Homo sapiens: one gene and its partners. The protein of the gene in region 1 purifies or fractionates together with the protein of each later gene. This does not show direct contact. Each region holds a gene or a part of one and is shown in the gene's direction. Other genes may lie near its edges.

Evidence for each region.
Region 2: the proteins of CANX (region 1) and PGRMC1 purify together in Homo sapiens (affinity purification with mass spectrometry; 3 studies listed by BioGRID and IntAct, with this or other methods). This does not show direct contact.
Region 3: the proteins of CANX (region 1) and POGLUT1 purify together in Homo sapiens (affinity purification with mass spectrometry; 4 studies listed by BioGRID and IntAct, with this or other methods). This does not show direct contact.

Annotation. Positions count from the first base shown.
Region 1 is NC_000005.10:179,705,426-179,709,081, forward strand, and holds part of CANX (calnexin isoform d precursor), read left to right. Parts: intron 1-253; coding exon of another isoform or gene 254-256; coding exon 257-427; intron 428-832; coding exon 833-906; intron 907-1,706; coding exon 1,707-1,765; intron 1,766-2,813; coding exon 2,814-2,955; intron 2,956-3,552; coding exon 3,553-3,634; intron 3,635-3,656. UniProt on the Homo sapiens protein: Calcium-binding protein that interacts with newly synthesized monoglucosylated glycoproteins in the endoplasmic reticulum. It may act in assisting protein assembly and/or in the retention within the ER of unassembled protein subunits.
Region 2 is NC_000023.11:119,239,239-119,242,235, forward strand, and holds part of PGRMC1 (membrane-associated progesterone receptor component 1), read left to right. Parts: intron 1-1,070; coding exon 1,071-1,226; intron 1,227-2,997. UniProt on the Homo sapiens protein: Component of a progesterone-binding protein complex. Binds progesterone. Has many reported cellular functions (heme homeostasis, interaction with CYPs). Required for the maintenance of uterine histoarchitecture and normal female reproductive lifespan.
Region 3 is NC_000003.12:119,475,381-119,479,036, forward strand, and holds part of POGLUT1 (protein O-glucosyltransferase 1 precursor), read left to right. Parts: intron 1-1,932; coding exon 1,933-2,068; intron 2,069-2,953; exon of another isoform or gene 2,954-3,094; intron 3,095-3,656. UniProt on the Homo sapiens protein: Dual specificity glycosyltransferase that catalyzes the transfer of glucose and xylose from UDP-glucose and UDP-xylose, respectively, to a serine residue found in the consensus sequence of C-X-S-X-P-C.

The DNA of each region.
Region 1 (3,656 bases):
TCCTCTCTATATGAGGATGTTGTGTATGTTTCAGTTTTATTTTGAAATTTTCCAGAAATGGAATCTTTTAACTGATTTTAGGGAAACCCTTTAATCTCTCTAGGCTGCCTTTCTTTATCTATGAAATGAAATAGTAAGTTCTTTTTAGCTCTGCGATTTAAAAGCTTTAATTTTAAATGAGAGAGTGGTTAGTGATCTTCATGAAGTTTGATAGGTGGCAATACATTTAACTGATTTTGCTCTTTATGTGTAGATCATGGAAGGGAAGTGGTTGCTGTGTATGTTACTGGTGCTTGGAACTGCTATTGTTGAGGCTCATGATGGACATGATGATGATGTGATTGATATTGAGGATGACCTTGACGATGTCATTGAAGAGGTAGAAGACTCAAAACCAGATACCACTGCTCCTCCTTCATCTCCCAAGGTTTGAAATGGTCTTTGAATCTATTCCTTTTACGTCTTGAGATGATAAAATTATGAAGATACCCGGGTGCAGGGAAATGTAGTCTCAACTACTCAGGAGGCCTAGGACAGGAGTGTGAGTCCAGCCTTGGCAACACAGGGAGATATCATCTCTAATAAAATATAAAAGAAAAACATGGTGAAGATAAATTTGGAACGTTTTCAAAGGGAAAGCAAAATTCGTGAAAATACTTATTGATCTCTCTGGCAGCCTTTGTCTTGCTAGAGGCCAATTATATGGGTTGAATTTGAAGGCCAGCTATGAAATTTTTGTGACAGTTGAAAGCAAACCAGGAGAATAGATTCTAGATAAAAAGGCATGTTGCTGAAAATTTAAATTTTTAATTCATTTATGTATTTAACACAGGTTACTTACAAAGCTCCAGTTCCAACAGGGGAAGTATATTTTGCTGATTCTTTTGACAGAGGAACTCTGTCAGGGTAAGTGTTTTCCAGAGAAATATATGTTAGAGGCAGACATGTAAATAAGATGGGATAGTAGATTCCTTTTTGGATAGCATCTTTTATAGTGAAATGTCTAACTTTATTTTATTTTATTTATTTATTTTTTGAGACAGAATTTCGCTCTTTTGCCTGGGCTGGAGTGCAATGGCGTGATACCGGCTCATTGCCACCTCCGTCTCCTGGGTTCAAGTGATTCTCCTGCCTCAGCTTCCCAAGTAGCTGGGATTATAGGCATGCGCCACCATGCTGGCTAATTTGTGTGTGTGTGTTGTTATTTTTTTAGTAGAGATGGGGTTTTGACATGTTGGCCAGGCTGGTCTTGAACTCCTGACCTCAGGTGGTCCACTTGCCTTAGCCTCCCAAATTGTTGGCATTACAGGCATGAGCCACCGCACCTGGCCTGAAATTTCTAGCTTTAATATCTTCAGTGTTAACATCCATGCAGGAAAATAGTCTTTTGGAATTTGTGGTTTTTACTTCCACTTCTTTCCCTCCCCCACTCTACCCTATATTTTGTTCTTTGATTGAGGAAAAAAATTTTCTCTTGATGTTAAAACATCAGTGGAATTATCTCATAGGTTTGGTACTTTTTCATATAGGTTTGTGAGTTGAAGATAATGTATTATCATTAGTTGTGTGACAGATTTAAAGGTTGGAAGTAGAGTGGTTAAATAGGCTAAGAGCAGAATAGGTCCTACTTTAATGAGTATTTACATAATTTTCCCTCACAAGTCAACTGTCATTTTAAGACTGATTTTGGGATTTGTTATTTACAGGTGGATTTTATCCAAAGCCAAGAAAGACGATACCGATGATGAAATTGCCAAATATGATGGTGAGAATCCCATTTGGTTTAGATATAATAGCAGATAGAGGTTTGACATGTTGTCTCCATGGCATTTCCTAAGACTAGTTTAAAAGGACATAGTAGGCTTTAAGATTTTTCCAGCCAGGTGCGGTGGCTCACGCCTGTAATCCCAGCACTTTCGGAAGCCAAGGCGGGCAGATCACGAGGTCAGGAGATCGAGACCATCCTGGCTAACACAGTGAAACCCCGTCTCTACTGAAAATACAAAAAATTAGCTGGGCGTGGCAGCGTGCATCTGTAGTCCCAGCTGCTGGGGAGGCTGAGGCAGGAGAATGGTGTGAACCCGGGAGGCCAAGCTTGCAGTGAGCCGAGAACGCGCCACTGCACTCCAGCCTGGGTGACAGAGCGAGACTCCGTCTCAAAAAAAAAAAAAAAAAAAAGATTTTTCCATGGAAGTTTTGCCACCTTTGTGTGTTGCCTAATTTTTTTTTTTTTTTTTTTTTTATTTAAGGTTCAGGGGTGCATGTGTAGCCTTATATTTAATAGGATTAGATCTGTTTAATCACCTGTGCTACTGAATGTTGGAAATTTCTAGACAGTAGTATAATACACTACAGTTTTAAAAAGCCATATCTGAATAATATTTGCCAAATAAAGTGTGTTTATTTATTATTTATTTACTTTTTTGAGACGGAGTCTCATTCTTGCCACCCAGGCTTCTGGAATAGAGTGGCGTGATCTTGGCTCACCGCAACCTCTGTTTCTTGGGTTCAAGCGATTCTCCTGCCTCAGCCTACCGAGTAGTTGGGATTACAGGTGCCCATCACCACGCCCGGCTAATTTTTGTGTTTTTATTAGAGATGGGGTTTCACCATGTTGGCCAGGCTGGTCTCGAACTCCTGACCTTGAGTGATCCGCCTGCCCTCAGCCTCCCTAAGTGCTGGGATTATAGGTGTGAGCGACCACGGCTGCCCCAGTATAATATATTTATGCAACTAGGAGGTGTTTTTTTTGGCATTTAAAGGACCTTCAGAGGTAGAGTTAAGCAGTGGAACTTTTTTGTGTTGTCTTGTAGGAAAGTGGGAGGTAGAGGAAATGAAGGAGTCAAAGCTTCCAGGTGATAAAGGACTTGTGTTGATGTCTCGGGCCAAGCATCATGCCATCTCTGCTAAACTGAACAAGCCCTTCCTGTTTGACACCAAGCCTCTCATTGTTCAGTAAGTGAAATGCTTGTTGGATAAAAGCTTTCTGCAAAGGGTAATCTTAGAAGACATTATGTAACTTTTACTCTATGTTAAAAAATTATGAGATTATATAAGTGGTGGTAGGGATTTTTGGGTGAATTTAAACACCTTGTAATTAATAGTTTTTCCTGGCTAATGCATTATTTTGAAAGAAACTGGTTACTTATTTTCCTGACTCTAAATAACTTGTAGATTTTGCAGAACAAATTTACCGGAAATCTGCATTAATAGTTTTTGTAATTAATTAATTACAAAACTAGTAATTAATAGTTTTTCCTGCCTAATGCATTATTTTGAAAGAAACTGGTTACTCATTTTCCTGACTCTAAATAACTTGTAGATTTTGCAGAACAAATTTACTGGAAATCTGCATTAATGTTCAATTTAATTTTATTTATTTTTGTGGCATTTGATAACTATTCAAAAACAATAGAAGATGGAATCCTTTGTAAGGGTAAACATTTGACCTATGATAAAACGTGACTAAGATGAGGGAGAGAGGAAATACATTAAGAGAGTTTCGATCTTTCAAAATGCCATACAGTTTTCTGCTTTTCTCTCTGATATTAGGTATGAGGTTAATTTCCAAAATGGAATAGAATGTGGTGGTGCCTATGTGAAACTGCTTTCTAAAACACCAGAACTCAACCTGGTATGTAATTCCCATTTCTGGA
Region 2 (2,997 bases), on another chromosome or scaffold:
ATGTAATGATGATTAAAAATAAGCATTTTTCTTTGGAATTTTACTTGCATTTAAAAGTTGTAAAATTTGTAAAAAATTTCTGAGTGTATTGAGGTTTCAGGTGAACAGGCCATATTGAAACTTGATCTATTCTCATACTTGGTTCCCTACAAACATTTTAATGTCAGGGCTGCTATTCAATCTGCCTTGGGGGAAACAACACATTGTTTAAAGTACACTGGATTCTCTTCATTTAGTTGTGCAATATTTAAATAAGTCTAAATATCCACTTTGTGTACCCACAGAATGATTCTCTGCTCTCTTAGACAAAAGTTCAGTATAATATCACAAATAATCACATTTTATAGAGTTGTTTTATAGAGTTGTTTTGCAGTATTGATTCAGCCTCTTTTCCATGAAAATTTTAGTATTTTCACAGTCTTCTCAAGCCCACCAAAAAACAGATAATGAAGACTGATCTCTGTGTTATCTATTTATTGACAGTGAAGGTTATGTAATGTGGATAGATTTTTAAACCACCGATACTGTTATAAAATGGTTCTTCTGCAGATGCCATGAGTTAATGTTTAATTGAGCCTTGGAACCAAAGATCTCTATAAGATACCTTTGTTTCATTAAAACATATCAGAATATATTCATAAGGAAATGTGTTTTCATGTACACATCAGTGCTTATTATCTTAAGAAACCATAACTCTCACTGGTGTAGCCCCAAGTGCCTAGAACTGTCAGGCTCCCAGTTCAATGTTCTTGTATGATTCCCTACTACCACTACCCCAAGAGATCACTAACCACGTATGACTTTTTTACTAGCTATTTGGAAACCACAGGAGACTGACGCAAATGTATAGCAGTTTGATTTACTTTTAGTTATTTAAAAGTTAAATGACAACAGGTCTTTCTGTGTCTCCTACATAATGTTCAGAATATCAGCATTACTATGGTTTCCTAATGGAATTTGATATTCAAAAATGGGGCTATGTTGATGAATAGGGAAGCCATTTTCTGTGTATAAATCACAGAGAAATTGACTGTCTAATAAAGAATTGATCTTTGGTTTTGTTTTTGAAGAGGGGCCGTATGGGGTCTTTGCTGGAAGAGATGCATCCAGGGGCCTTGCCACATTTTGCCTGGATAAGGAAGCACTGAAGGATGAGTACGATGACCTTTCTGACCTCACTGCTGCCCAGCAGGAGACTCTGAGTGACTGGGAGTCTCAGTTCACTTGTAAGCATTTTTAAAATTGTGTCTGGGTCAAATTTCTACCAGTAATGGGGATTCGTGGCAGGACAATAGTTATTACTAAGCAGCCTGAAACTTGGGTGCATTTTGATAGGCTCCTTAATCTTGGACGCATCAAGTTCATGGCTTGAAGTAATTGTAGCAGTGCTGAGTCACTTGCTATGATTGCATACCAATTTTTAGCCAGTTCTCTATGGAAACTTGGGTTTCTGGTTTTGATTTTAAAATTTTTGAGAGATTTGCTAGATTCCAAATGAGGATTTGGTGCTTGGTGTGTCAGGGAAAGGACAGTGTCCATCTTGGCTACAGAAAGGGATTTTCATAAGCCCTCTCTTGTAGAGCTTGCCGTTTAAAAGCAGCCCACATCTCTGTTGAAGAATGGGAGACTTGTATTCTGTGAAACAGCTTCTCTTTGAATCTAATTGAACCTAACTATAGGCCTCATCTACAAATGATGCTTATAATGTGCCCAGCAGCAATGGTGTCTGCATTTTTAAAAAGAAAGTAAAAAGGAGATGCTTGTTTCTGGCTTATGCTATGGGCTGAGGTCTTTGGGGAGAAATAGGAATGAGGGGTTAAGTTCAGATTTTGAGAATTCAGGAATTGGTTTCTGTCAAATCTAACTGTTTAATTGTCACTCTAGCAATATTTCACTGCCAAGAATTTGAATAAGAGTCTTTCCCAGCTTTTATGAAACAGTATATAAAGACCATGAGCATTATTTGAAGATTTTTCATTTAAAATGTAGTTTTCTATGTGTGTTCTCTATAATCAGTTAAATATTACATGTTCTCTTGGCTATATCCAACCATTTTCTTTGAAAATAATGCTGACTTCAGAGAGAGTTCTGGATTAATAATTAGCCAGATGTGTCTCTGCCTTTGAGTTTTGGTCTCAAGCAGGCTACATATAACTTCCAAGTCTAGAGGCAAGTTTTTATACTTTGGAAAACATAGTTCAGTTACCTAATAGAGTCCCTAATTTTTGGCATCATAAGGATGCCTTTGTAATTAGTTTTCTATATGAAACCAGTGAATTGTAGTGTCTAACTTACAAAGCTCTATTTTCTAGGGCTTGCCTTCATCAGTGGGAGAAAAAGTGTGATTTTTTTTTTCCACTTTAAGGCTAGCCCCAGATGCTGTTGTGACACCTCAGCTACACTTAAAGTTGGTGTGGATTCCCCTTAAGGCAGGTTTCCCAGGAGCCACCTGGCTTTTATTTGTCTCACACAGTTCCAATTGTTCCCAACGGTTATTTCACACAAAAGCAGCTTTAGTTACCTGGTTAGACAGGTTGGTTACTCCTCTAATTCCTACTCATATTCAGGAAGAGGAGACTCTTGGCTTTGGACATTCAGATGATCGACCCTGCATTAGTTTGGCTACAGTGATGAGGTGGTTTGCTGATGCCATCTCTTCTCAAGTCTTTTGCATTCTGGTTTGCACCCTTACATCTGTTTTCTCCAACACCTCCAGTCATCTCCTGGCTCCTTTACCACTTCCTTTAACCACCCATAGGTTTTTCTCTGTGCTGGGAAAAACGTTCTGTCTCTTGCTCTCCTCTTCATCTATGAGACTATTATTCCTTCCTTTCACTGTCAAACAAACTTCTTACAAGTTTTTATTCCTAACCACTACTTCATTTCCTCTCTATACCTTCTTCCTCCCTACAATATGGCTTCTATCCCCACAATTGGATTGAACTCTCTTTCTGAAAGATTTTCAGGGAAACCTTTTTTTTTTTTCTTGCCAATCCT
Region 3 (3,656 bases), on another chromosome or scaffold:
ACCACATCACTTTGCTTTTTGGATAACGCAAGCAATGCTGCAGTGAACATCCTTGTTACTGTGAACACTCATGTAAATATATATGTAGGCTAAATTCCTAAAAGTATAATAACTAGGGCAATTAATGTCATTTTAAAATCTTGATAAATAGGCTGGGTGAGGTGGCTCACGCCTGTTATCCCAGCACTTTGGATGGCTGAGACAGGCAGATCATCTGAGGTCAGGAGTTCAAGACCAGCCTGGCCAACATGGTGAGAACCTATCTCTACTAAAAATAAAAAAATTAGCTGGGCATGGTGGCCTGTGCCTGTAATCCTAGCTACTCGGGAGGCTGAGGCAGGAGAATCACTTGAAACCCGAGGTGGAGGTTGCAGTCAGCTGAGATTGCGCCATTGCACTCCAGCCTGGGCCACAGAGCAAGGCTCCATCTCAAAAAAAAAAAAAAATCTTGATAAACAGGCTGGGCACAGTGGCTCTCACCTGTAATCCCAGCACTTTGGGAGGCTGAGGTGGGAGGATCACTTGAGCCCAAGAGTTCAAGATCAGTCTGGACAACATACCAAGACTGTCTCTCCACACACACACACACACACACACACACACACACACACACAAACACATACAGAGTTGCCAGGTGTGTTGGCACACACCTGTAGTCCCAGCTACTCAGGAGGCTGAGGTGAGAAGATTGCTTGAGCCTAGGATTTTTGAGGCCACAGTGAGCCATGATCATGCCACTGCACTCTTCAGCCTGAGTGGCAGAGCGAGAGACCCTGCCTCAAATAAAAAAAACCTTAAAAAAAGAGAAATCTTGGTAAATAGAATCTAATTGTCCTACAAAGAGGCTAAACACTTCCACAACCGATATATCATATGCTGTGAATAGATCTCACACCCTTACCAACACTGCACTATTGGACTTTTTGATCTTTGCCAATCTGATTGGTAAAATTGGTATCTAGTTTCATTGACATTTCTTTATTATTAATACAGTTGAGCATCTTTTCCTATGTTTGTGAACTGTTGATATTTTTTGCAGTTATCTCCCTATATAAAAAACACTTTTTTTTTTTTTGGCTAGAGGAGCTCACTACATTGCCTACTGTGTCACTATGTTGCTGGTCTAGAACTCTTGGGCTCAAATAACCCTTCTGCCTAAGTCTCCCAAGTAGTAAAACAATATTTTAAATCAGTTATTTCCATGCTGCCAGAAAATTTTGATCAAGCCTTTGAATATTGCCCCTAGCATAGTGCTGGTCAGGACCTCAGAGGATGAGGCAGAAACAAGCTAAACTGTCAGTGTATCTTCTTTTTCTTTCAAGAAATCCCTGATTTCCCAGGGAATCTAGTCAGAAAGCTGTGTTACACTATTTATGATTATGTATATAACACTTTTTCTGGCTTGCAGAACTGATTTTGATAATGTTCTTTATTCAGGTTGAAGGTAATGAAAGGTTTTCTATCTGTTCTCATAAACTAGGAGACTTAATTATAATGGAAATAAAAATGGTGTCTTTGTGAGGAGCAAAGCCAAAGGAACACAGGTGGAAAATTAGCTATTTCAGCTATTACGAGAGTTTGTATCTTGTCTACTAATTAAACTATTCCATATAAGGGAAATAAAGAAAAGAACTGGAATGAATAAAGTGGTAGAAGTAGCAATAATACTCCCTTCAAAGCTATGACGATTTATTTGGAAAATTTTATTAAGTATTGTAAGCTGGAGCAGCTTAGCTATGAGTGAACTTGCACAATACAAAAAAGCAGAATAGCCCCTTTAGAAGCATTGTTTTCAGGAGACTTTGCAGTAGACTGATGATATGGAACACTGGAACACTGGCTTGTCTTACTTTAAAATGTGAATGGGACCTCGCCTTGTCCTAGAGCCTGCAGGCACTACTCTGCTGAATTTATGGTATGTCTGGTTGACAGGTGTAGTGGTGTTGAGCACTTTATTTTGGAAGTGATCGGGCGTCTCCCTGACATGGAGATGGTGATCAATGTACGAGATTATCCTCAGGTTCCTAAATGGATGGAGCCTGCCATCCCAGTCTTCTCCTTCAGTAAGGTAAGTACAGGGAGAGCCACATGGGTGGATGGAGAGTGGTCCTCTAGGATATGAGCATGAGATCTTTGTCCGGTGACATAGTCTGATGGATAATGGTAAGGATGAGGACTGAGGTCCAGAAATGGGTCTGTGTCTCTATTAGCATCACAGTGATTGAGCAAAAAGACAGAGGAGATGAAGTTGAGAGCTGGTAAGTAGTGTAAGATTGCTTGAGTGTCTATAGGGCTAGAGATGGAGGCTAGGGCGTGAGAGGCCTGAGAAACCTACAGGAATTAGAGGTGGGTCTTGAAGATCTTACAGAGCATGGGAGGAAGGGGTCCAAGAAAGCTTGGAGTTAGGGAACACCTTCATTCCAAAAGTTTGTTGAGCTCCTACTATGTATATATTCAGCCATAGTGCTGGGTATCAGCTGTCCCATCTGTCACCATATTCCGGGGGCCCAGGGTGGCTAAAAGTGAACCTGAAGGTGCCAGATAACTCCACACGGTGTGTGTACAAGCCGTGCATTGAAGGGATAGGCTGGAGATAGCCTAGAGGGCTATGCAAGGGGGTGATCTTTTAGACTCATCATGGAAGATTGGAGTAGCTAGGATACACCTGTGGGCTTGGGGAATTGGGGGCAAGGAATGTCTTGTCAGTGCTCAGGTTCATGTAAATGTTGTATCGGCAGGGATGGGCCTTGGTTCCCTAGAGACAAGGAAAGCATTTGGGGGTGAAGGCAGGAAGGCTAGAAGAGAGTGGATGGAAGATTCTATGGGGTAAGAGTGAATTGAGGAAAACCCCATGAAATTTGGGAAAAGGAACACTATTTCTGATTTGGTTTGTCTAAAGCAGAGGGACCTTTTATCCCCACTTTTTCTTTATCATAGTTTACTTTCTCCCTAGACTTGTTTTATTTCCTGTGTTGCAAGTGGGCAGAGGCCACATTTGTGTTGCATTTCCCATGGTCTAGCCTCATTTCTCGAAAGTGTTTGGTTCCATTGTTTGTCATGAAACTCACTCAGAAGAACAGATAGAGGCTCCCATGTAAGTCAGTAGGGACTTCGTGTTTGTTATCTATCTGTTGTTTCTATGGATAATAAAGTATGACCGTCGGTATACTAACTTTCCGTTCATCTTTACTTCCCTTCTGTTTTTTAAATCAGTGACTTCTAGTTTCCAAGGGAGAGTTTTACTCTGTCAACTTTATAGTTAATTGTGCAGCTTCTATTGAATAGCTGTTATGTTTAAGGTGCTTGATGAATCACATTTTTTACATATTTGAGAGACAGCAAACAGCATATTGCACATGTATTTCCAGTGGAAGAAATAGTAGAGTTAGAGGTTTATCAGTGGCCAGATTTTTAACAGAAGTAACCATAAAAAGGGAACAAATGGAGGCCAGGTGTAGTGGCTCACACCTGTAATCCCAGCACTTTGGGAGGCCGAGGCAGGTGGATCAAAAAAAAAAAAAAAAGGGGGGAACATATGGCTTTAAACTTTTTTCTTTTTTTTGAGGCAGAGTCTCACTCTGTTGCCCAGGCTGGAGTGCAGTGGCGCGATCTCAGCTCACTGCAACCTCCACCTCCCAGGTTCAAGTGATTCTCCA